Regions from separate parts of the Homo sapiens genome. Here all the other regions are linked to region 3. Evidence: fine-mapped expression QTL. A gene starts in region 3. Each other region holds a variant in brackets. All regions are shown on one strand. Distances are from middle to middle. Region 1 overlaps LOC124903398 (a long non-coding RNA gene). Region 2 overlaps CLBA1 (clathrin binding box of aftiphilin containing 1). Region 3 holds the start of CDCA4 (cell division cycle associated 4).

The links. PIP is the estimated chance that this variant, and not a neighbour inherited with it, causes the effect.
Region 1: its variant is fine-mapped to the expression of CDCA4 in monocytes after R848 (Quach 2016, PIP 0.95).
Region 2: its variant is fine-mapped to the expression of CDCA4 in blood mononuclear cells (TOPMed, PIP above 0.99).

Annotation. Positions count from the first base shown.
Region 1 is chr14:105,039,683-105,047,858 of GRCh38, forward strand. All of the region lies in intron 1 of LOC124903398 (a long non-coding RNA gene), which reads left to right. Among named protein-coding and RNA genes, the nearest start is that of GPR132, 22 kb to the right of the region's middle. RefSeq lists a silencer at 6,009-6,268 and an enhancer at 7,804-7,903. The variant T/C (reference allele first, on the strand shown) is at 4,456.
Region 2 is chr14:104,994,480-105,002,655 of GRCh38, forward strand. It overlaps CLBA1 (clathrin binding box of aftiphilin containing 1), which reads left to right. Exons shown (of 5, transcript NM_174891.4): 5 at 119-1,037. The coding sequence ends at 280. Among named protein-coding and RNA genes, the nearest start is that of CLBA1, 13 kb to the left of the region's middle. The variant GACTT/G (reference allele first, on the strand shown) is at 4,112.
Region 3 is chr14:105,017,265-105,025,440 of GRCh38, forward strand. CDCA4 (cell division cycle associated 4) reads right to left here and starts at 3,819. Exons shown (of 2, transcript NM_017955.4): 1 at 3,735-3,819. RefSeq lists enhancers at 1,884-2,544, 2,996-3,511, 4,026-4,539, 4,555-4,614 and silencers at 3,165-3,254, 3,265-4,154, 4,185-4,254.

The DNA.
Region 1 (8,176 bases), 22 kb after region 3:
AAACCAGTTAAAACAGTTCAGTTCCTGAAGGCCCAGGGACTATCGCGGAAGAGGCGGGTGTGTGGATTGTAAGGGGTGATTTTGAGAGATAAGTTAACCATTAATGTTGAAGGCACACTGATGTAAGCCCAGCATATGGGCCTCTGTGTCGGATTAACAAGGTTTTCTTGGAGTATTAACCCAGTCCTTAATAAAAGGTTATAAAAGGCTTATGGAAATTGTATTTTATACTCAACATGATTAAAATTGTATAGATTGGGCTAGGTGCAGTGGCTCATGCCTGTAATCCCAGCACTTTGGGAGGACCGAGGTGGGCGGATCACTTGAGGTCAGGAGTTCAAGACCAGCCTGGCCAACATGATGAAACCCCATCTCTACTAAAAATACAAAAAAATTAGCTGGGCGTGGTGGCGTGCAACTGTAATCCCAGCTACTTAGGAGGCTGAGGCAGGAGAATCGCTTGAGCCTAGGAGGGAGAGGTTGCAGTGAGCCAAGATCCCACCACTGCACTCCAGCCTGGGTGACAGAGCGAGACTCCGTCTCAAAAAAAGAAAAGAAAAATTGTATAGATTGTCGTGCACTTGGTTTCTCAAGTCGCCCACCTGGCCCTCTTCCACGTGTGCTTTCCTTCCCTTCATTCCTGTTCCAAAGTTCTTTAATAAACATTCACCCCTGCTCTGAAACTTACCTCAGTTTCTCCTTCTGCTTATGCCCATTGGTCGAATTCTTCTGAGGAGGCAAGAATTGAGGTTGCCACAGACCTGTACGGATTCACTGCCAGTAACTCAGATACCTTTCACCAGTAACATGTCAATGGAAAGAATCAAACTCTGTAAAACATTTGAAGAGATTTATTTTGAGCCAAATATGAGTGACCATGGCCTGTGACACAGCCGTCAGGAGGTCCTGAGAACATGTGCCCAAGGTGGCTGGGGTGCAGCTTGGTTTTATACAATTTAGGGAGACACAGACATCAATCAAACACATTTAAGAAATACATAAGGCCAGCCGGGTGCGGTGGCTCACGCCTGTAATCCCAGCACTTTGGGAGGCCGAGGTGGGCAGATCACAAGGTCAGGAGATCGAGACCATCCTGGCTAACACGGTGAAACCCTGTCTCTACTAAAAATACAAAAATTAGCCGGGCATGGTGGCGGGCGCCTGTAATCCCAGCTACTCGGGAGGCTGAGGTAGGAGAATCGCTTGAACCAGGAAGTCGGAGGTTGCAGTGAGCCGAGACCGTGCCACTGCACTCCAGCCTGGGCAACAGAGCGAGACTCCATCTCAAAAAAGAAAGAAAGAAAGAAATACATAAGGCCGCGCACGGTGGCTCACGCCTGTAATTCCAGCACTTTGGGAGTCCGAGGTGGGTGGATCACCTGAGGTCAGGAGTTCAAGGCCAGCCTGGCCAACATGGTGAAACCCTGTCTCTACAAAAATACAAAAATTAGCTGGGCATGATGGCAGGCGCCTGTAATCCCAGCTACTTGGGAGGCTGAGGCAGGAGAATCGCTTGAACCCGGGAGGCAGAGGTTGCAGTGAGCTGAGATTGCACCACTGCACTCCAGCCTGGGCGACAGAGTGAGACTCTGTCTCAAAAAAAAAAAAAAAAAGAAACAGAAACACATTGGTTTGTTCCAAAAAGGTGGGACAACTCGAAGCAGGGAGTGGGGAGCACCTTCCACGGGTAACACATCACAAGGAATTTCCTTGTGGGCAATTTGTGTGGGAGGTATGTAGCTTTTTAATCTTTGTAGCTGTCTTGTTTACAAATAGGATTGGAGGGAGGTCTGCCTGCCAGCAGTTCCCAGTTTGACTTTTCACTTTGGCTTAGTGATTTTGGGGTCCCCATATTTTCCTTTCATACTAGCAAATACCCCAAAACCTTCCCACACCCCCGTGGCCACAGTTACTTTGCTGTTCTTGGTCTCAAACTCCTGGGGTGCACTCTTTCTCCACCAGTGGTGTGATCATGGCTCACTGCAGCCTCAATCTCCCGGGCTCAATCCATCCTCCCACCTCAGCCTCCCGAGCAGCTGGGACAACAAGCGCACACCACCATGCCCAGCTAATTTTTGTATTTTTGGTAGAGGCAGGATTTTCCTATGTTGCCCAGGCTAGTCTTGAACTCCTGGACTCAGGCGATCTTTTCACTGCAGCTTCCCAAAGTGCTGGGATTACAGTCATGAGTCACCATGCTGGCCTCCTGAGGCCTTTATGTACCTATGGGCTTGCCAGCCGTCCTCCACCCTCCTCTCCTCTCCAAGCCACTGGGGGCCTTGGGCCAAACTTTGTGGGCCCTGCCCTGCCCTGCCCAACCCTTGCACTTGCTCTTCCCACCAGCCCCTCCTCGTGAGCCTCTGTGCATCCCTCCTCTCCGCCCCCTCCCAGTGTTGCAGGGCTCCGGATCCCAGCCCTCACACCGCCCCTCTGTCACCGCCTACTCCCCAGGCGCCTCTCCAGTCCTGGATTAAACGCCATCCACCCTGCACCAAAAGAACCAGGAGGCCACTGCGTGTCAGCCGTGCCCTTATTTTAAGCACCCCAGTTTAGGCCGAATTCTAAGAACATGTGCTCTCCCAGATTCCCCTGCGCCAGCCCCTGGAACTGGTGCCTCTGCGGAGGTGCCACTCCCAAGGTCGGGCGAGTTTACACGGCAGAGTGGAGCTTAACGCTAATTCCCAAGTGGGCCTGACCTAGTCCCGGGAGCCTTGAAAAGAGGACAGTTTTCTGTGGCTGGTGACAGGAGGGGGAGTCAGGGAGGTCCAAGCCTGGGAAGGCTTCAAGGTGCGGATGCTGGTTTGAAGACAGGGCGGGGGGCGTGAGAAGGAACATGAGCACCCCCCAGAAGCAGGGAGCAGCCATCAGTGACACCACAAGGAGGCAGGGACCTCCTCAGTCCCACACCCGGCTTCCCAGCGACAGGAGCGAGCTTGGAAGGGGACCCTGAGCTCCAGACCAGAGCGTGACCAGCTGCCGCCTGACTCCAGCGTAAGCAGAGACCCACAGACTGCAAGCTAAGAAAGGTGGGCTGCTTGAAACCACGCAATTTGTGGTAACAGGAGAGGAAGACCACCAGCTACCTGAGGCTCCTCCGAAGCACTGGGTTCCTCCTGCAGCCTCTTTCTTTCACCTCCACCTCCCATCTGCCCGCCAGCGTCCTCGGCTCCACCTTCACACACATCAGGATCTACCCACCTGCAACCGCCCGCGCTGCTGCCCAGTTCGGAGGCTCACCTGCACCCTTGGGCCGCCTCCAGATGCTTGTAGCTCTTCCTGAGTATCCAGGCACTTCCACGACAGCCAGCGGGCCCTTAAATGCGAGTTGGCTGCATTGGCCTCTGCTCAGGAGTCCCCGGCACAGCCGTCTCAGGTGCTCAGAGGGAACTCCATTGTCGATGCCTGGCTTCCTGGGCTCTTGCTCCCCGTGGATTCTCACCACTTCTCGAGCACCTGAAGTGCTCCCTGCCCTGGGCTTTTGCCCTGCGCCTGACCCAGACCAGCTGCAAGGTTGCTCCCCACTTCCACTGGTCTGGTCTCAAAAGCACCTGCTCAGAGAGGCCATCCATGGCCCTGTCTGCAGCCCACTCAGCCCTTCCCAGCATAGATGACCCTGGCACGTTGTATACTGGTCTTGCTAATCTTCCTAAGAAAGCAGTGACCTGGATACAGTTATTGTCTCCATTTTCCAGATGAGGACAGCGAGGCACAGAGAGGTTGGGTCACTTGTCCAAGGTCCCAGAGAGTAAAGGGCAGTGCTGGGGTCTCAGCTCAGGCCCTGGGGTCCCAATGTCCACACGTGAATCCTCAGCGTCATGCATGTGTCTCCCTCCAGGCAGAGGGCAAATTTGCTTGCTGTCCAAGATAATAAAGATGGCTTCTCCCTCTGGGCAGAAACTGGGCAGGTTTGCTAGCAGTCCTTTAAATGACTGGTGTTTCCTAACCCAGGGTTCCTTAGCTGTGTGTACAGCATCCACCGGAGCCACTCCTCATTGTCCGTGGGGCTGGGGGGCTGGGGGGAATATGAAGCTCGTGCTGCCTGCTGTGCTGTGAGTAACAAAGTCTTTGTCTCAGACCCAGGTGTCTCATGTCTTGCCCATGTTCAGAACACTGGCAGGCTCACTGTTCACTTGCAAACAGAGGGAACTCTCAGACCATTCATTTCTTCCTTTTTCCTACTTCCCCTTTCCCTCCTCCTTGAGGGCCAGCTTTTAACCTGCCAAGGAGCCAAGAAAGAGACGTTGGAGAGGGCTGGGGATTGCACAAATAAGTAAAAGCATCGGGGATGAAGGATTTGAGGACTCTCGTTTCGGAGAAGGGAGTTGCAAATTAGGAAAGTGGTCAGACTGGACCAACTTCTGGCTGGGTGGATTGAAATTGGAGATATCAGTACAAATCCAGTTCCAATATGGATAGCTGGAAATACAGATGTATATCTATGTGTGTGTATATATC[T/C]ATGTGTGTGTGTATAGGCATATGTATTTTCTACAGATCTGGAAACAGTGAGCACCCCTAGTGCCCAGATCTTGGATTATTATTATTATTATTTTTTGAGATGGAGTTTTGCTCTTGTCGCCCAGGCTGGAGTACAACGGCGCGATCTCGGCTCACTGTAACTTCTGCCTCCTGGGTTCAAGCGATTCTCCTGCCTCAGCCTCCCGAGTAGCTGGGACTACAAGCATGTGCAACCACGCCCAGCTAATTTTTGTATTATTAGTAGAGACGGGGTTTCACCATGTTGGCCGGGCTGGTCTTGAACTCCCGACCTCAGGTGATCCACCCACCTCAGCCTCCCAAAGTGCTGGGATTACAGGTGTGAGCAACTGTGCCCTGCCTTCTCTACCATTTTGTGACACAGAATGAAAGTCCTCACCAGGGCCATGCCCTTGAACTTCTCAGCTTGTAGAACTGTGAGCTAAGTAAACCTCTTTTTTTTCTGATAAATTATGCAGTCTCAAGTAATCTTTTATAGCAAGACAAAATGGACGGAGACCCGCACATACACACATGAGAGAGAAGGGTAAGCCTGACCTCATAGTGGAAACCTCAAATTCTCTCCCCAGAAACGGTGTAATAATTGCTTATTCATTAATGAATGCAAAATGCTTACTAATTAACTTTTCAGTGGGGAATGGCGGCAGACACCATCATACCCAAGCGATGAGGGTTATCATCACCAGCGATGGCCAGATTGGCCCCGTGGGCCTCCGGTAGGTTGCTGTAAGAGGAAAGTCTCACTTCTGAGGGGTTCCTCCTGGAAATGAAGAAGCCACAGGAAACAGGCAAGGCTAGAGCGAGGGCCATCCCACAAAGACCCATAAGACCCACAAAGACTCACTGAGACAGCGGGGAAATTGGCAGGGGCTCTGCGGAGTCGATGGGGACATTGGATCAGTGGTGGCTTCCTGATTTTTCAAGGTTCACTGCAATTACTTGGGAGAGAGTTCGTTTATTTCCAAAATACTCTCTGAGCTGTTTAGGGGAGCAAGCCTGGAGTCTGCAGCTTATTCTCAAATGCCATATAAGCAGGAGCGAGAGAAGGAATAGCGGGGCAATGTTCACAGATGGCGAATCTGCAGGACAGGAATATCCGGGTCTCTTTGCACGGTGTTTGCCACCTTCTGTAAATTGGGATTTTTTTTTTTTTTTTTTTTTTTTTTGAGACGGAGTCTCACTGCAACCTCTGACTTCCTGGTTCAAGCGATTCTCCTGCCTCAGCCTCCCGAGTAGCTGGGATTACAGGCACACGCCACCACGCCCAGCTAATTTTTTTTTGTATTTTTAGTAGAGACGGTGTTTCACCATGTTGGCCAGGATGGTCTCGAACTCCTGACCTCGTGATCTGCCCGCCTCGGTCTCCCAAAGTGCTGGGATTACAGGCGTGAGCCACTGCGCCCAGCCCCAAAATTGGGAATTATTTCAAAATAAAAAGCTGGATAAATGCATACACACAAGGCAGTATCGCGTATTTTCCACGAGTGCCTGTGCAGGCAGGTAAGGATTTAGGAAAGGTCTGGAAGGATGTGCAAAATGTTCCGCCTGCGAAGGTTCCGCGGTGGCGGGGACACTGCTCCGGCTCCGCTCCCGCCCGCCCGAGCGCTCGGATGGGGCCGCCTCTGCACTGCGTGGCCACAGGCGCGGCCCGGCTGCCCACGGGCGCCCTTTGCAGCTGCTGCCCCCTGGCGGCCGCGGGCGGCTACTAGCGGGAAAGCGAAACCCGCCCGGTCCATTCAAGCCCCGCTGCCTGGCGCCCTCTAGGGTCGTTCTTGGGAACGGGCGGACCTTTCGTCAACACTTTGCCTGCAAGATCCCCCATTGGGGGAACCGAGGAGGAAGTTAAAGGAAGATGTGTGTTTTTGAGCGCTGCTTTGTGCCAGGCTCATCTTAGGTGTGGGACGTGTACTATCTGAATTAATACCCCACCAGGCCTGTGGGACAGTCACTGTCACCATTCGCAAATTATGGATGAAGAAAGGAGGTACCAAGTGGTGGTATCACCTGTCCATAGTGAGCTGTCCCTCAGGAGGGTGGCCGCCCCACGCGACCATTCAGTGTGCTCTCATTCACACGTTCATTACCCAAGAGCACTGCTAGCACTGGGGGCTGGCTCACTCCTGCGATCCCAGCACCTTGGGAGGCCAAGGCAGGCAGATTGCTTGAGGCCAGGAGTTCAAGACCAATCTGAGCAACAGTGAGACCCTGTCCCTATAAAAAATGTAAAAATTAGCTGGGCAGCTGGGCATGGTGGCACATGCCTGTGATGCCAGCTACTCAGGAGGCTGAGGTGTGAGGATCGCTTGAACCCAGGAGGCAGAGGCTGCAGTGAGCTGAGATTGCACCACTGCACTCAACTCCAGCCTGGGTGACAAAGCAAGACCCTGTCTCAAAAAAAAAAAAAAAAAAAGGATGGATGTGGTGGCCTATGCCTGTAATCCCTCCCAGCACTCTGGGAGGCTGAGGCAGGCAGATTGCTTGAGTCCAGAAGTTCAAGACCAGCCTGGGCAATGTGGTGAAACCCTGTCCCTAACAAAAAAAAAACCAGCTGGGTGTGGTGGTGCACGCCTGTGGTCCCAGCTATTCAGGGGACCAGGAGGTGGAGGCTGCCGTGAGCTGAGATCATGCCACGGCACTTCAGCCTGGGTGACAGAGCAAGACTCTGTCTCAAAAGAAAAAAAAAGTCCTCCATATGTGGTCCCCCCTCATGCTGTCTCTTCCAGGCATGTCCTCCCACATGCCAGGAGGCTGCAGGGCCACCAGGATGTGACCTCCTTGGGCTGTGCTCCCCTGCCCCAACTCCAGGCAGTAGGATCCCAGAATTCCCAACAAAACTCTCCCTGCCTCCCTGGCCTATGCGGCCTCTCCCTGGGCTGTCGCTGTGAGGCATCCACAGCCCCTGCCATGCCAGGCAGAGTGGGGATGGTCGGAGGGGAGCGGGTGTGGACGGGACACAGGGCCTTCCGGAGAGCCTGAGGTGCTGCTTCTGAACTGCTCCTTCCCCTGGTGTGCAGGTGTCTTCGTCACAGTAGGACCTGGGAGAACAGTTCCATAGGTCCGGGGGCTTCTCTCCAGCTGGCGAGGAGGTGTGTGGTCCTCTCTCCCTGTCACCGTTACTCAGGTAACGACAGGGCAGTGAGCAGAGCAGTGTTGCCCCTCCTGGACCCTGTCTGAAGAGGCAACTGTGGCTAGAGGCTGGAGGGCAGGGCGGCAGGGCATGGTGCTGGAGGCAGGGGTGGCCCTCGGGGCTCCCCTCCTCATTCCCGCCTCCCTGCGTGGGTCACAGCGGCCTTCACTGTGGCCTCCTCACTACCTGGGGTGCCCCAGGAGCACCTCGTGGAGGGAGTGCCTGAGTGAGGTCAAGCGGGGCGGAGGAAGGGGTCGATGGTGAGAGAGACAGTGAGTGAGCCCAGACTCCACACAGGGCGGCCCCTAGCGCTGGCCACCTCAGCAGCTCCCACCAGCAGCACAAGCTGGATGACAGGGCCAGGGCCTGTGGTCAGTGGTCAGTGGCTGATGACAAAGCCATGCTGTGACCCTCTCTCACTGCCAGAGCAGACGCGGGGCGGTGAGCAGCCAGGCAGGCCCGTAACCTCCACCTCCCCAGCTGCGCCCGTCCTGCAGGGACTCAACCTGCTGCCCTCCGCCCACAGCCCTCGAGGGTCTCAGCATTAAGGGCTGG
Region 2 (8,176 bases), 23 kb before region 3:
GAACCAAGGAGAGAACACTAGGGGGCCGAGAGGCAGGGGGCGGCCAGGGGCAAACGCCCAAGCTAGCGCTTCTCATTGCCCGGGGTGCGCGCGCCTGACTGCTGTCCTCTCATCTCAGCTCTCGGGGCCGCCTGGCAGCAAACAGGGGAGGCTGATGACATGCAGCCGCTTCCTGAAGACCCCCTCATGCGGAGGTGGCCAGCACATCACTATTCCAAGGAAAAGGATGTTCACTCCACGCAAGCTCAAACTGACACTCTTTAATAGCGACGTTTGCTAAAATCAGGAGGACTTTGTACCTTTATGAGGAATTTTTCATTTTCTTCCTGGCTGGGTTGATGTGGAAACCAGAGCTGTCTGTGGAGCTGTTTTCCAGACCCCAGGCCCATTCCTGGGATCTCTCCAACAGGACCTGTCCTGTGTTCTGGGCTTGTCTCGGGTCTGACCAGGAGATGGAGGATGTGTCCTTGGCAGAGCCAAGGGGAGACAGAGGTTTCTGGATGCCATGACAGGCTGTCGGGGTCCAGGTGGCACTCATGGGCCCCCTGCCCCATGTGAATGCTGCTGGCACCTGGTGGGGGGTTGCCCAGGGATGGACCCTGGGCATGGCTTCTGGGCTGCTTAGTCCAGGGGGAGCAACTTGTGGCCAAATCCATGAGTTCAGAGGAAAAGGGGAAGGCACTGAAACGTCACCAGAGAGACAGCTGTTGAGACCGCTCAGAAACCCTCTGTCTGTCACACTCTGCCCTGGCTGCTGTGTGGTCAGGGCACCATGAGGGTGTACAGATGTGCTGTGTCCTCAGAGCCTCGCAGGTGCCCTCACTTACTGCCTGGGCCCCTGCCCAGCAGCCTCAAGGACAGGCCTTTGTCCCTCACGGTTGTGGACAGGAGGTCGCACCACTGGCCTGCGAGAGCCTCTGGTGGGCCCGTGGCTTCCCCCAGTTATCTGCTAAGGAAAACTGTGCTCTTCGAAGGGCAGAGCCAAGAAGTCAGCCCTGACTTTTGTAAAATTTTACTAAATAAAACCACCTGGATAAGCCTGTTGTCACTGGTTCATCAGCTGGGGGGACTGATACCTGAAATCCTGTCCCCAGGGGAGGCCTGAAGTCTTAAGCAAGCAGCCACCCTGGCTGTCTCTTTTCCTGCCAAGGCCACACAGGGGACCATAGCCTCCATGTCACTGTGGTATCAGTGCGATGTGCACAGTGATGGGCAGGAGTTTCCATCATGAGGGAGGAGGAAGCAGATGTCCCTGCACAAACCCTGGCCTCGGCCACCCAGCTGCATAGCCAGCACCATGTTGCACGTGGCTCTAGGTCTGTGATGAGGAGAATTCCTTTTTGTTTGTTTGTTTCTGGGTACCACATGGTTTGGAAAGCTGCCTTTATTTTTCATTTTCAGCCAGGGGAAAGTGGGAATTTAGAGACTGTTTTTCTAACACACAGCTTCCTTCAAAGGCACTGTCTTTTGGGCCCTGCCAGCAGAGCCCCTCCAGGAGATGCCCTGGTTTCCTAACCTTTAAAAGTTAGACTTTAACAAGCCAAAATACTCCATCCTGCTCCTCCCACTCCAAGATTCGGGTTCAGACTGTGCCATGGCATCATGGTGTCACCCATGGTGGCCCTTGCTCCTCACCTGGCTGGATGTTGGTGACCCACAGACCTCAGAAGGCCAAGCCTTTCTTCTGACTTCCCTGTGGCCTCACAGGAACCTCAGAAGCAACAGGTTCCAAACCTGACTTCTGTGGCACCCACTAGAGAAGAGAGGCCCTGCTGCTCTCGTCCCCAGAGGGGAGTGAGAGGAAGAGGCCCCTCAGAGTCAGGTAAGGAGGGACCAGGCGACGTACATGCAAACCACTTGTCCACTAGTGCGGCTGCCAAGCCCCCAGGGTCTGGAGGACCCTGCAACAGGCAAGTCCAAAGCTCCCTGGCCTCCCTCAGGTCCACACTGAGTGCTCAGGAAGAAAGTGCCAAAAGCTGGGAGTGGGGGCAGGGAGCTGACGGACACTCCCTCGAGAACGCCCCTCTCACAGATATGCTGGGATTTTTGTTCCCAAAGTCTGGAGGCCCAGCAGGGGAGCTGGGACAGTGGGCGGGAGGCAAGCCCCCAAAGGCTGAGGAAGAGGCTGCAAGACACCCCGGGCGCAAGGCGAGGGGCTGGAATGGAGAGCAAAGGAAGCCTCCAGTGGCCAAAAAGGACGGCAGTCCGGCTGAAGAACGGAGAAATCATGCAGCCCCCAAAGCCAGTGGCTTGGCTGCGACACACAGGCTGATGTCCAGAATCACTGTGCTCAAAGCTCAGACCCCACCGAAGCCATGCCCTGATGCCACCCTCAGGGCGTCTGAAGGCCTAACTACAGCTGCAGAGAAGTCCAGAGCTAGCTCAACTACCGGGAAGGACAACTCTGTTCCCACTCTGGCAACCTCACAGTGGAAGGCACGTGCCCCTCTGTGGAACTAAACGTTGTTTGCTTCAGCCTCGATTGTTCTTTTATATGAACTGTCTAGCCTGCAGTAAGACATTACAAGACACATGAAAAGGCAAGAAAACGTGAGCCACAGTGAGCAGTAGAAGCAGAGTCAGCCCCAGTGGTAAAACTGAAGTCAAGGGCTTTGAAGGAACTCTGGGGAGGTGGGGAGGGCCTGTGGAAATGGCGGGTGACATTCACCAAGAGATAGGGATGTTCAGCAGAAACAGGGACACTTCAGTAAAAGACAGAATGAAGATGCTGCAAATGAAAAATACAGTATATAAATGATCTTTAGATGGGTTTAACAGCAGACTGGACATCACAGAGGAATGGATCAGTTAACTTGAAGATTGGTCACTAAAGAAGATCCAAACACAGAGAGGGGAGGGAAGACGACAGAGGGTCCAAGATCTGTGGGCCAAAGTCAGATGGCCTAACTGGGTGTAACTGGAGTCCCAGAGCAGGAACAGGAGAGAATAAAGAAGAAATATTCCAAGACCGAATCACTAAGAACTTTCTGAAATTCATGAAAGAAAATAATCCACAAATCCAAGAATCTCTGTAACTGCAAGGAGGTGACGTGGAGAAAACCGTACCTGAACACATCCTACAGGCCTTAAAGGCAGCTAGGATGGAAACAGGAGATTCATATAGAGAAGCAACGATAGGAACAATGGCTCACTTCCCACCAGAAGGCCACGCACGCACCCACATCTGCGGTGCTGAAGGGAAAAGGAAGGTCAACTTAGAAGTTCACATACATTGAAATATTCTTTAGGCTGGTCACAGGGGCTCACACCTGTAATCCCAGCACTTTGGGAGGCTGATGCAGGTGGATCACCTGAGATCAGGAGTTTGAGACCAGCCTGGCCAACACGGAGAAACCCCATCTCTACTAAAAGTACAAAAATTAGCCAGGCGTGGTGGCGCATGCCTGTAATCCCAGCTACTTGGGAGGCTGAGACAAGAGACTTACTTGAACCTGGGAGGGGAAGGTTGCAGTGAGCCGAGATCACGCCATTGCACTCCAGTCTGGGCAACAGAGTGAGACTCTATCTCAAAAAAATAAAGAAAGAAAGAAAAGAAAAAAATATTCTTTAAAAATGAAGGCATTATCAGCCAGGATACAGAAACCACACCAGTTATCTGAAGAGGAAAAAATGTAAAGAATTACTAGGCCCGGTATGTGGTTCATACCTGTAATCCCAGCACTTTGAGAGGCCAAGGTGGAAGGATTGCTTGAGGCCGGGAGTTTGAGACCAGGCTGGGCAACATAGTGAGACCCCCATCTCTACAAAAAAGTAAAAAAAAAAAATTAGCCTGGTGTGGTGGCGCTCACCTGCAGTCCCAGCTACTCAGGAGGCTGAGGTGGGAGGATTGCTTGAGCCCAGGAGTTGGAGGCTGCAGTGAGCTGTGATCACACCACTGCACTCCAGCCTGGGCAACAGAGTAAGACCCTATCTCTTAAAAAAAAAAAAAGAATTAAGTAGTAAAAGTTGGTTAACTACTAAAAGGGTCTTGGTTTGGTTTGGCTTGGGTTAGAGACAGGGTCTTACGATGTTGCCGTGCTGGTTTTGAACTCCTGAGCTCAAGCAGTCTTCCTGCCTTGGCCTCTCTTTTTGTTTTTTGTTTTTCAATAAA[GACTT/G]ACTTAATAGGCCCTGAAGTAGCAGGTGCGGGAAAGCAGCTTCTCTGGGTTGGCGGTGAGGTACAGTGAGGAATTAAGGCCTGGCCAAGGCCCCCTGCCCTCCCAGGCTGAGACGCAGGCCTTTCACAGTGAGTGTGGCTATATAGGAACAGGCCTAGGCAAAGGAGCTGAGCTGGAGCTGGTCTGCAGGGACAGCTGGCAGGACAGGTGCCCCCAGGAGCACCCTACTGGAGTGGCTCAGGAGCAGAGCCAGTGCAAACACGGGGCATGCTGGGGCCCATCGTGCCATGCTGGGCTCCTGTGCCAAATAACACTGATGGAGGACCAGACCCAAGAGGGAAGCCCCTCTCCCAGCCAGCTACTGCCGCTTCCCAGCTGTCTGCAGTCAGTGCTGAGTAGAGAGTGGTGCAGAGCCAGCCGTTTCTGCCCACCTCGGCCTCAGATGGACACTCTATCCAGGGCCCATGGGTGTGGCAAAGGCCCTTCCTCCCACAGATGCCAGGCTTGCATTGAGGCTGACAGCTTTCCTCTGCCTGCTCCTGCTTTCTAACCCTTTTGTCCTTCATAAGTATTTCCCCAAATAAACTTCTTGAATGTGTAAATCTGTCCTGGCCTTTGATTCCTAGAGGCCCTGAAGGAACGTGACCATCACCTGACCTGAGTGACACTGCAAAGCCCTCATTCTTTCTAGTGGACGTGGAGCTCTCTCCAAGCAGATAACTGAGCCGTCAGCCACATCAGAGGCCAGGGACATGGCCTTCAGAGGCTTTGGCCATCATGCAAAAAACCTGGCCACCCTGAAGCCTCTATGCTGGAGAAATGTCTGCAGTGATCCCACAGAGATGCTGACAAGATGCCCAAGGACCCAGCTGCTGGAGCTTTCCGGCCAGCATGCCAGCCCTGGGAGGAGGGAAGCCTTCAGGGTGGGGTGCATCCAGCTGCAGCTGCTGCCTGACAGCAGTGGCCTGACAGATCCCAGCAAGAACCACCCGGCTGAGCCCAGCCAAGCCGTGGCATGAGATCATGGCAGTAACAGATGGTAGGTGCTGCATGCTGTGAAGCTAGTGATGGCAGCTACACAGCAGGAGGTCATGAAAACAACACATGTCCAGATAACCAGTGGGTCCATAGAGGTCACTGGAAACTTAGTAATTGAAACTGAATAATGAAAATGGCACTGATCAAAATCTGAGTGAATGCAGTGCATAGAAGGAAATTTATAGCTTTAAATGTTTATATTAGAAAGTAAGAAAAGTACAAAACCACCTAAGATTTCATGTTAATGTGCAAGAAAAAGAGCAAATTAAACCAAAAGTAAGCAGAAAGAAGGAAATAAAACTGAGTGCCAAAATCAACAAAATGGAAAATGGCAGAACACTAGGAAAAAGGGATGGTCCTAAGTGAAGACGTAAGAGCATGTGATGTGCAGCTCTCGCATGACTCCTGATTCAAACAAACCAAATGTAGAGACAACTTCGAATAACACACAGCGAGGAAAAGCAGGCAGCCTCTGCCCAACACAGCCAGGAGACAGCCTCGGAAATCGGAGAAAATATTTGGAAACCATATGTCTGATAAGGGGTTAATATCCAAAATACATAAGGAACTCAAACAACGTAACAGGAAGAAAACCCAGATAACCTGATTGAAAAAATAGGAAAAGGACCTGAACAGACATTTTTTCTTTCTTTCTTTCTTTTTTTTTTTTGCTGTGTCGCCCAGGCTGGGGTGCAATGGTGCAATGTTAGCTCACTGCAAACTCTGCCTCCTGAGTACAAGTGATTGTCCTGCCTCAGCCTCCCGAGTAGCTGGGACTACAGGCGCCCGCCACCATGCCCGGCTAATTTTTGTATTTTTAGTAGAGACAGGGTTTCACCATGTTGGCCAGGCTGGTCTCGAACTCCTGACCTCAGGTGATCCACCTGCCTCGGCCTCCCAAAGTGCTGGGATTACAGGCGTGAGCCACCGCGTCCAGCCAAGCAGACATTTTCCAAAAATATATATATATCTATTTTTATATATATACACACACACAAATGACCAACAGCTATACAAAACCAATGCTCCATATCAGTAATCATCAGGGAAATGCAAATCAAGACTGCAATAAGATACCCCCTCACACCTGTTAGGATGGCTATTCTAAACAGATGAAATGTCGGTGATGGTGTAGAGAAATGGGAATGCTTGTGCACTGTTGGTGGGAGTGTAAAGTAGTACCGCCGCTATGGAAAACAGTATGGAGGTGTCTGAAAAAGTTAAAAATAGAACTACCATATCATCTAGCAATCCCACTACTGGGTATTTATCCAATGGAAAGGAAATCAGTATGTTGAAGAGATACCCGCACCCCCATGTTTATTGCAGCACTAGTCACCATAGCCAAGCTATGGAACCAACCTAGGTGTCCAACAACAGATGAATGGATAAAGAAAATGTGGTACATACGCACAATGGGATACTATTCAGCTGTAAAAAAAAAAAAAAAAAAAAAATGAAATCCTCTCATTTGCAACTGTCTAGATGAACCTGAAGCATTTATGCTAAGCGAAATAAGCTGGTACAGAAAGACAAACCCCACGTGATCTCACTCATACGTGGAACCCAAAAAGTCAAACTCGCCAGGTGTGGTGGCTCATGCCTGTAATCCCAGCACTTTGGGAGGCCAAGGCAAGAGGATCACGTGAGTCCAGGAGTTTGAAACCAGCCTGGGCAACAGAGTGATACCTCATCTCTACACAAATATAAAATAAAGGCCGGGGCCTGACATGGTGGCTCACGCCTGTAATCTAAGCATTTTGGGAGGCCGAGGCAGGCGGATCACCTGAGGTCAGGAGTTCGAGACCCTCCTGGCCAACATGGTAAAACCCCGTCTCTACTAAAACAAAAATTGGCTGGGCATGGTGGTGTGTGCCTGTAGTCCCAGCTACTCGGGAGGCTGAGGCAGGAGAATTGCTTGAACCCAGGAGGCATAGGTTGCAGTGAGCCAAGATCGGGCCACTGCAGTCCAGCCTGGCAACAGAGCGAGACTCTGTCTCTAAATAAATAAATAAAATAAAATAAAGGCTGGGCATGGTGGCTCACGGCTGTGATCCCAGGACTCTGGGAGGCCAAGCTGGGCAGATGACTTGAGGTCAGGAGTTTGACACCAGCCTGACCAACATAGTGAAACCCCGTCTCCACTAAAATACAAAAATTAGCCGGGCGTGATGGTGCGTGCCTGTAATCCCAACTACTCAGGAGGCTGAGGCAGGAGAATCACTTGGACCCGGGAGGCGGAGGTTGCGTCGAGCCAAGATCGTAATCCCTGCACTCCAGTCTGGGTGACAGAGCGAGACTCTGTCTCAAAAAAAAAAAAAGCAAAACTCAACCCAAGAGATTGAGGCTGCAGTGAGCCATGTTTGCGCCACTGCACTCCAGCGTGGGTAAGAGCAAGACCCTGTCTCAAAAAAGAAAGGGGAGTTCACAGACGCAGAGTAGACTGGTGGTTGCCGGGGGCTGAGGGCTGGCTGGGGAGATGGTGGCCAAAAGATGCAAAATTTCAGTTGCAAGGAATGAGCTCGGGGATCTCTTGTACGCAGGGACCGTAATCAGTAACAATGGATTACATTCTTGAAAACCACTAGGAGAGACTGGCTACGGTGGCTCACGCCTGTAATCCCAGTACTTTGGGAGGCTGAGGCGGGTGGATCACGAGGTCAGGAGTTCTCGAGACCAGCCTGGCCAACATGATGAAACCCCATCTTTACTAATAATACAAAAATTAGCCCGGCGTGGTGGCACATGCCTGTAGTCCCAGCTACTCAGGAGGCCGAGGCAGGAGAATCGCTTGTACCTGGGAGGTGGAGGTTGCAGTGAGCCAAGATTGCACGACTGCACTCCAGCCTGGGCGGCAGAGCAAGACTCCGTCTCAAAAAAATAATAATAAAACCACTAAGAGAGTAGATTTAAGTGTTCTCACCCCAAAAAGTGACAAGTATGTGTGGCAGTGCATATTAATTAGCTCGACTTAGCTGTTTCACAGTGTACACATATTTCAAAACATGTTGTACATGATATAC
Region 3 (8,176 bases):
TGCAGTGGTGCAATCTCGGCTCACTGCAACCTCCACCTCCTAGGTTCAAGCGATTCTCCTGCCTCATCTTCCCTCAACTTCCCGAGTAGCTGGGATTATAGGCGTGCACCACCACGCCCAGCTAGTTTTTTGTATTTTTAATAGAGCCGGGGTTTCGCCATGTTGGCCAGGCTGGTCTCGAACTCCTGACATCAAGTGATTTGCCCACCTCGGCCTCCCAAAGTGCTAGGATTACAGGAGTGAGCCATCACACCCAGCCACAAGCATTCTTTTAGGACTTAAACAGCCCGGGCACAGTGGCTCATGCCTGTAATCCCAGCACTTTGGGAGGCTGAGGCAGGCGGATCACCAGGTCAGGAGATTGAGACCATCCTGGCCAACACGATGAAACCCCATCTCTACTAAAAATACAAAAGATTAGTCAGGTGTGGTGGCACGTGCCTGTAGTCCCAGCTACTCGGGAGGCTGAGGCAGGAGAATTGCTTGAACCTGGAAGGCGGAGGTTGCAGTGAGCAGAGATTGCACCACTGCACTACAGCCTGAACAACAGAGCGAGACTCCGTCTCAAAAAAAAAACACACACACACAAAAAAAACACTTAAAACAAGTTGAATGTATACGATCTGGTGTATTCTGACAAAGGAATGCAACTCAGCAACATACCTCAATGATTTATGCAACACGGATAAATTTCAAAACATTATGCTGAATAAAAGCAGCAAGACACACACAAAAATATGTACCGTAGGATTCTATTGATCTGAACCTTCAGGACAGGCAAAGCTAATCTAAGTTGTGAAAACACAGAAGGGTAGCCACCATCAGGGTGGGAAATGCTACAAGGGGCCAGAAAGAATCCTCCAGGATGATGGAGATTCTCTCTCGCCCCTTGTAGGACTTGTGTAACCCAGGGACCTGCATAGATGTGCCTGGGTTACACAAGTTCTACAAGGGACGAGAGATAATCCCCATCATCCTCCACTGCATCTCATCCCATGCACAGATCCCATTCTGGTACCAGGAGAATATCCCTGTTCAGTCACTTCAAATCATTCCTCTCCAATGTTCCAAATCTCCAGCAGCTGTTAATTCTGTGTTGTACCCAATATTTTAAAATGCTGACAAGTTTATTACTATTAATACAAAAAAGAGTAAAGCTCACAGGTGCTTTTTACAGTCACGTGACCCCAAAGAGCTGTCACCCAGAACATGTGTTCAGGAGTGAAGAGGATAAGGTTGGGCCCGGAGAAGCTGGCCTGTGAGGATCACCCTGAATTGGGTTATATCTGTGTTTGGGACAAAGTCAGCAAGAGCATGGTCTTAACCAGCCCCGAGGGATGCCTGGGCTGGGCCCAGCTCCCTGAGGGCCTCCTGTGTGACTTCTGCCTGAGGCTGCTTAACTCCTTCTAATATGGAATGAGAAAGGGCCCTATACCATACCGGTGGGGCTGTGGAGCCTAGCTCCCTGCTCAATTTTTTTTTTTTTTTTTAAGACAGAGTCTCATTCTGTCCCCCAGGCTGGAGTGCAGTGATGCAATCTCAGCTCACTGCAACCTCCACCTCCCAGGTTCAAGCGATTCTCCTACCTCAGCCTCCCGAGTAGCTAGGACTACAGGCACGCGCCACCACACCCGGCTAATTTTTGTATTTTTTGTAGAGACGGGGTTTCACCATGTTGGCCAGGCTGATCTCGAACTCCTGAACTCAGGCAATCCGCCCATCTCGGCCTCCCAAAGTGCTGGATTACAGGCGTGAGCCACCATGCCTGGCCCCCTGCTCAGTTTTGAAGCTCTTTCTACACATCTAGTTAAATGCCTAAAATCCCACCAACTCCACAGGTTGTTACCGGGACAGCCAAGCCCTCAGTCAACTCCCAGCACTGCCCTCAGGCTTCTAAACCAAGCACCGACCAGACAGAGAAAAACGAAGAGGGCCAGACGGACTGAGGACATGTCCGACATGGCAGGTGGAACAGCCAACAGGCCACTAGGGACAGAGCAACCTAGGCCCACCGAGGCAGAGGCCAGCAGGGAGCAGCCCCGCAGTGCTGCTCAGGCAAGCAGAGTACAGCTCGGGGACTGGTCCTTCACTACAGCAGCAGTGGCCACACCTTCGTGGCTGAGCAATACCACGAGGCTGGCTGAAAACGCAGATTCCCAGATTCTGATCAGTAGGGCTGGGACGGTTGGGGACAGACTCAACTCTGACCTAACCTGTCACCTTCACAGCTGGACTTGCAGCCACTTCAAAGTTTCGGGTTTTTAAGCAAATCATCAACAATTTCCATTCCTCACACATCAGATAAGCTTTGAAATACTTTATCGGAAAAACAGGGAGAAGAGGAGCAAGGTCTGCAGTCTTGAGTACTGAGTGGGAGCTCCACCTTCCACTACAAGTCTCCTGGAGGCTGTTCATGAACAATTACTGTTATGTTAATTTCAGGTATTTGGTTTTTTTTGTTTTTTGAGACGGAGTCTCGCTCTGTCGCCCAGGCTGGAGTGCAATGGCACGATCTCGGCTGAGACCTCTGCCTTTCTGGTTCAAGCGATTCTCCTGCCTCAGCCTCCCACATAGCTAGGATTATGATTACAGGCATGCGCCATCACGCCCAGCTAATTTTTGTATTTTTAGTACAGACGGGGTTTCACCACGTTGGCCAGCTAGTCTCGAACTCGGGACCTCAGGAGATCCACCCGCCTAGGCCTCCTCTCAAAGTGCTGGGAGGTGTGAGCTACCGCGCCCAGCCAATTGCAGGTACTTTTGTTACTTGGAACGAAACACACTCCTTCTTTTCCCTGAAAACATGTTCCAGTGGCAAGTTGAGGGAAACTTCCTAGCCCCTTTTCCAAGATACAGCCTACTACTCTTCCTAGAAAAGGGGTGTAACTCACTTTGTATTCTGGATTTCCACCCTAATTATAAAACACGGTGACACTTGAAAATAGAGTGGTTGTACGTAGAAAGTTGATAAAACGTAAGTTTTGTGAACAGGCAATGTTTTTCTGTGGCTCGCTTTGAGAGAACGGTTATCTGGGTCCCGCCGTCCCGTGCGTCCCACACGAAGGCCACAGGAGAAGCGAGGCAGCGGAGACCCTCTATTCCAGCAAGCTGTCGGAGCCTTTGCCACGACGATCCTGTTTGCGGGGCGAGAAGCGTCTGAAGACGCGGAGGGAGGCTTGCGTCTGACTTCTGCAAGTGTCTCGGGGACTTTCCCTAGTCCCACCTCGCACCGCCGGAGGAGCCCAGGGAAGACGGCGCTGGCCGACCCGCCCGGGGTCTGGGCCTCCTCCCACATCCGCGGCCCTCTCCGCGGCCGGGCTCCGACAGAGGGGGCTGCGGCGCGCCTGGCGTTCCCTCCGCTGCAACTAGAGCCGAGGTACGGGAAACGCCGCTGCGTACCCCAGCCGGGCCCTCGTGAAGCGGCTCCCGCGTGGGGCCGCCCGCAGGCCTCGGCAAAGCCCCAGCTCCGCGCTCCGCAAGGAACGCAGACGGCGGCCCGGGCCCCTCTGTTCCCCGGGCCCCCTCAGCAGCGGCCACCCCGCGGGGGAACCAGCGCCCAGGAGGGCGGCGAGGGCGCCGCGGCAGCCCCAGCGGTGGTCCCGGGCGCCGCCTCCGCCCCGGACCCAGCGCCAGGAGCCACAGACTCCGCGCACCGCCCCCAGGCTCCTCCGCGCCCTGCAGCACAAAAGTGCACGCCGCCGTAGACGCCCTAGCGGTCCGCCGGGCCCGCTCACCTGACCCGCGAGGCCGCCCGCCGGGTCCTCTGCTCAGCCACCGCCACCGCCGCTGCCGCCAGCTTCCCGCCGCTGAGGAAGGAGCGCCCGACGGCGCGGGGCGGGGCGAGCGACCGCCACTCGGCGTCCACAAAGGGTCGACGCTGCGCTCTCCGCGCGCTACGCCCGCTGATTGGCCACTCGCGGGCCGGGGGCGGGGCCTCTTGTTCAAACCCACGCGGGCGGGGCATCTGTGGCGCGTCTTCCCGCGCTGCGGCGACGGCCGTTGGGGCTCGCGCGCGCCCTCGGTTGCCCCGCCCCCGCCCCTGCGCCCGGCCCCGCCACGCCCACGCCCCGCCGGCTCCCAGGTCTCCCCGCGCCCAGTCCGGCCCCGCCCCGCCAGCTCCCAGGTCTCCGCGCGTCTGGCCCTGAACTGAACGCGCCTGCGCCTGGGGCCCACGTGGGGCCCTCGGGCGGGCGTGGCGGGGCAAACAGAGGTTTGGACTCTCTCGCTTCTGCCTGGCTCAACTTCTCCGCCGAGGCATCCGTGCCGGGGTCGGGAGGAGCCGGGCACGGCAATTCCCGGGCGGTCTGGGCTCCGAGGTCTATCCAAGCCTCTCCAGAGACCGGGGTTATCTCCAAAGGCTTCCTAGGTTTACACGTAAGAAATGTAACGTGAAAGTTCAAAGCAGGGGACACGTGTTTTAAATCTCTTAGTGGAAAAGGTTTTAAATAGGATGCGAGAACCTGCAATCATTGACTTAAGTAATACCCTGAGCGCCTGCAGCAGGCCCGGCAGGCGTGGCTGCAGCTGAGAGCCAAGTGCTGGAAGTTGGGGGGGAATCCTCAGATCAATCCGCAGGTGCGGATGCGCCAAGGTCGGTGGTAAATGCTGAAATGCTGTCGGGAAACCTGGGAGTGACGTGGGGGCGCTGCTCACATAGGTCTCTAGGATAAGGAGCGTCTTAAAGCACCAAAAGGAAGAGTGGACGAGAATTCAGGAGAGGAATGGCTGGGGCAAAGCCCGAGGCAGGGGCAGGAGGCAGGAGCACGTCTCAGTGCAGTGAGAAAGAACCCTGTGATCTCGTGGGAAAGTTTTAAGTGTGAGGGGTGGAGGGACTTTTGGGCTATTCTGGGAGTGGGATGGAGACTACTGGCATGGTCAGCAGAGAAGGAACTGGAATCTGAATTGTGCTTGAAAAGAATCACTGTTCTTATTTAAAAAAAAAAAAAAGGGGGTCTCTTTCGCCCAGGCTGGACAACAGTGGCGTGATTATGGCTCACTGTATCCTCGAACTCTTGTGCTCGAGTGATTCTCACGCCTCAGCCTCCCAAGTAGCTGGGACTACAGAAGTGTGCCACTACACCAAGCTAACTTTTTTTTTTTTTTTGGTAATTTTGTAGAGACAGGGTATTGTCTTGTTACACAGGCTGGTCTCCAACTCCTGGCCTTAAGTGATCCTCCTACCTTGGCCTCCCAAAGTTCTGGGATTACAGGCATGAGGCACCACAACCACCAAGAATCACTGTTGGTAATAGATTTGGAGGAGGTGGCAGGAAGGCTGGAAGTAGAAAATCCCATTAGGTTACTGCCCAGGTAAAAGAAAATGGGACTTGATAAAGGTGACTACCTGAGAATTTAAAGTTTATGCATGTCAAAGTGAAAAGACAAATGGGGAAAAAAGTTTTTCCTGGCTGTATCCCACATAAAGGTTAAATTCCTTAATATACAGATATTCTGCAAATGCAAATGAAATCTAGATCACCAAAGAAAAGTGGTTTGGAAATAGTGGCACCCACCTGTAATCCCAGCTACTCAGGAGGCTGGGGTGAGAGAATCCCTTGAGCCCAGGAGTTGGAGGCTGCAGTGAACTATGATTGCACCACTGCACTCCAGCCTGGGCAGCAGAGTGAGACCCCATCTCTTAAAAAAAGAAAAGAAAAGTGGGCGTAGAATATAAACACAGTTCAGAGCAAAGAAAATACAAATGCTCCTATACAGGCGAATAGATGCTCAGCCCCAATCAGAACAAGAGCAGTGGAAATTAAAGCTATGCTGGAGTGCTGTTTGCCACGGGTCAAATTGGCAAAGATCTAAAATAATGTCTGGAGTAAGATAATATCTTCCAGAGCATATTAGTCTATTCTCATGCTGCTAATAAAGACATACCCGAGACTGGGTAATTTATAAAGAAAAAGAGGTTTAATGGACTCGCAATCATGGCAGGAGACAAAGGAAAAGCGAAGGGACGTCTTACACGGCGGCAGGCAAGAGAGCGTGTGCAGGGAGCTCCCCTTTATAAAACCGTCAGATCTCAGGAAATGTATTCACTATCCGGAGAACAGAACAGGAAAGCCTGCCCCATGATTCAGTTACCTCCTGCCGGGTCCCTCCCACGACATGGGAATTATAGGAGCTACAATTCAAGATGAGATTTGGTGTGATATTTTGACATGTATATACAAAGTATAATGATCCATCAAGGTAGTTAGCATATCCATCACCTCAAACATCATTTCTTTTGTGTTGGGAACATTCAAAATCCTCTCCTCTACCTATTAGAAAATATGCAGTAAGTTACTGTTAACTGTAGTCATAAAATATTAACAGGCTTGCTAGGACATAGGACCAGAAAAAACATAGAAGTCTATGGTTACACCAAGATTGGAGTCATATTTTTCAGTAACTAATGTATTCAGGAAAATTGATGACAAGGAGAACTAGAATCCGTTAAAAAAAAGACTCAAATTGAAGAAAGAGCATCAGTCTTACACAGAGTCTTCCAAATGATAAAGGGGAACTCTTCTTACCAATTTGTTCTACAGGGCTAACAAATTTGATACTAAAACTCGAAAGGGACATGATGGGAGAAAACACACATGGTATTCTCTCTCATGAACATTGTTTAAAATTCCAAACCACATATTAGCAAATCAGATCCAATGATAATGTAAAAAAGGTAACTCATCACAACCAAGTTGGGTGTACTCCAGGAACTGGAGTACAGTTGATTTCACATTGCAAGGTCAACATGATTCATGACAATAGAATGAAGGAGAAAAAAAGTATGAAAATCTCAGTGTAGAAGCATCTAGTAAAATTCAACACCCCTTCATGGTATAATCTTTAGCAAACTAAATATACAAGTACAAAGTTAGGGACAGCCCCAAGACCACCCTCAAGTTTGAAATTCATTAGAAGGACTCAGAGAATTCCCTAGAAGCTATTGTACTCGTGGTTATGGTTCATTACCATGAAAAGGCTCATTAAAATTAACCAAGAGAAGAGGTGCATGGGGCAGCGGCCAGGAGAGGCCATGCGGAGACTCCAGTTGTTCTCTTAGTGGAGTCATAGTGGTATTGCTGGTGAAAATGTGTCACTGGGCCTGAGTCCAGAGTTCATTTACTTCCCAAATGAATATATACATTTATTCTATTGCCAGGCAAAATCCCAGGATATTTTTGAAACCTCACAAAATGCTATTAAAAATCTAGAGAAATGGCCGGGCACAGTGGCTCATGCCTGTAATCCCAGCACTTTGGGAGGCTGAGGTGGGCGGGTTACCTGAGTTCAGGAGTTCGAGACCAGCCTGGCCAACATGGTGAAACCCCGTCTCTACTAAAAATACAAAAATTAGCCAGGCGTGGTGGCATGTACCCGTAATCCCGCTACTCGGGAGGCTGAGGCAGGAGAATTGCTGGAACACAGGAGGCGGAGGTTGCAGTGAGCTGAGATTGCACCACTGCATTCCAGCCTGGGCGACAGAGTGAGACTCTGTCTCAAAAAATAAATAAATAAACATAAAAAATAAAATAAAAATCTAGAGAAATACATGTGGAAGGCTACCCTATAGATAAAGTAAGAAAAAAGAAAAGTATTAAGGAGGACACCCACCTCTATATCAGTTACCTTTTGCTGTGTGACACACTTTCCCAAACTTAGTAGATTCAAAAGGCAGCCTTTTGTTTGCTGGCATTTCTGCGGTTGGCATTTCGGCTGGGGTCACAGCATCCTGTGTCTCATGAGGCATCAGCTGAGCTCACTCAAGTGTTTGGGTCTTGGCAGAGATGACTGACTCATCTCTGCTCTGTCATCCTCCGGAAGGCCAGCCCAGGCAGGCACCAATACAGGGGCTCTTTTTATACTTCCCTCTGCTCTGCTCATATGTGCCAATGTCCAGGTGGCCAAACCACATGTGGCCAAGCCTAGGGCCAGTGTGGACACGAGAAGACAATTCCCTGGAGGACATTATTATTGTTACTATTATTTTGAGACAGAATCTCACTCTGTCGCCCAGGCTGGAGTGCAATGGTGTGATGCTCTCAACTCACTGCAACCTCTGCCTCCTGAGTTCAAGCGATTCTCCTGCCTCAGCCTCCCTAGTAGCTGGGATTACAGGCGCCCACCACCATACCTGGCTAATTTTTGTATTTTTAGTAGAGACAAGGTTTCACCATGTTGG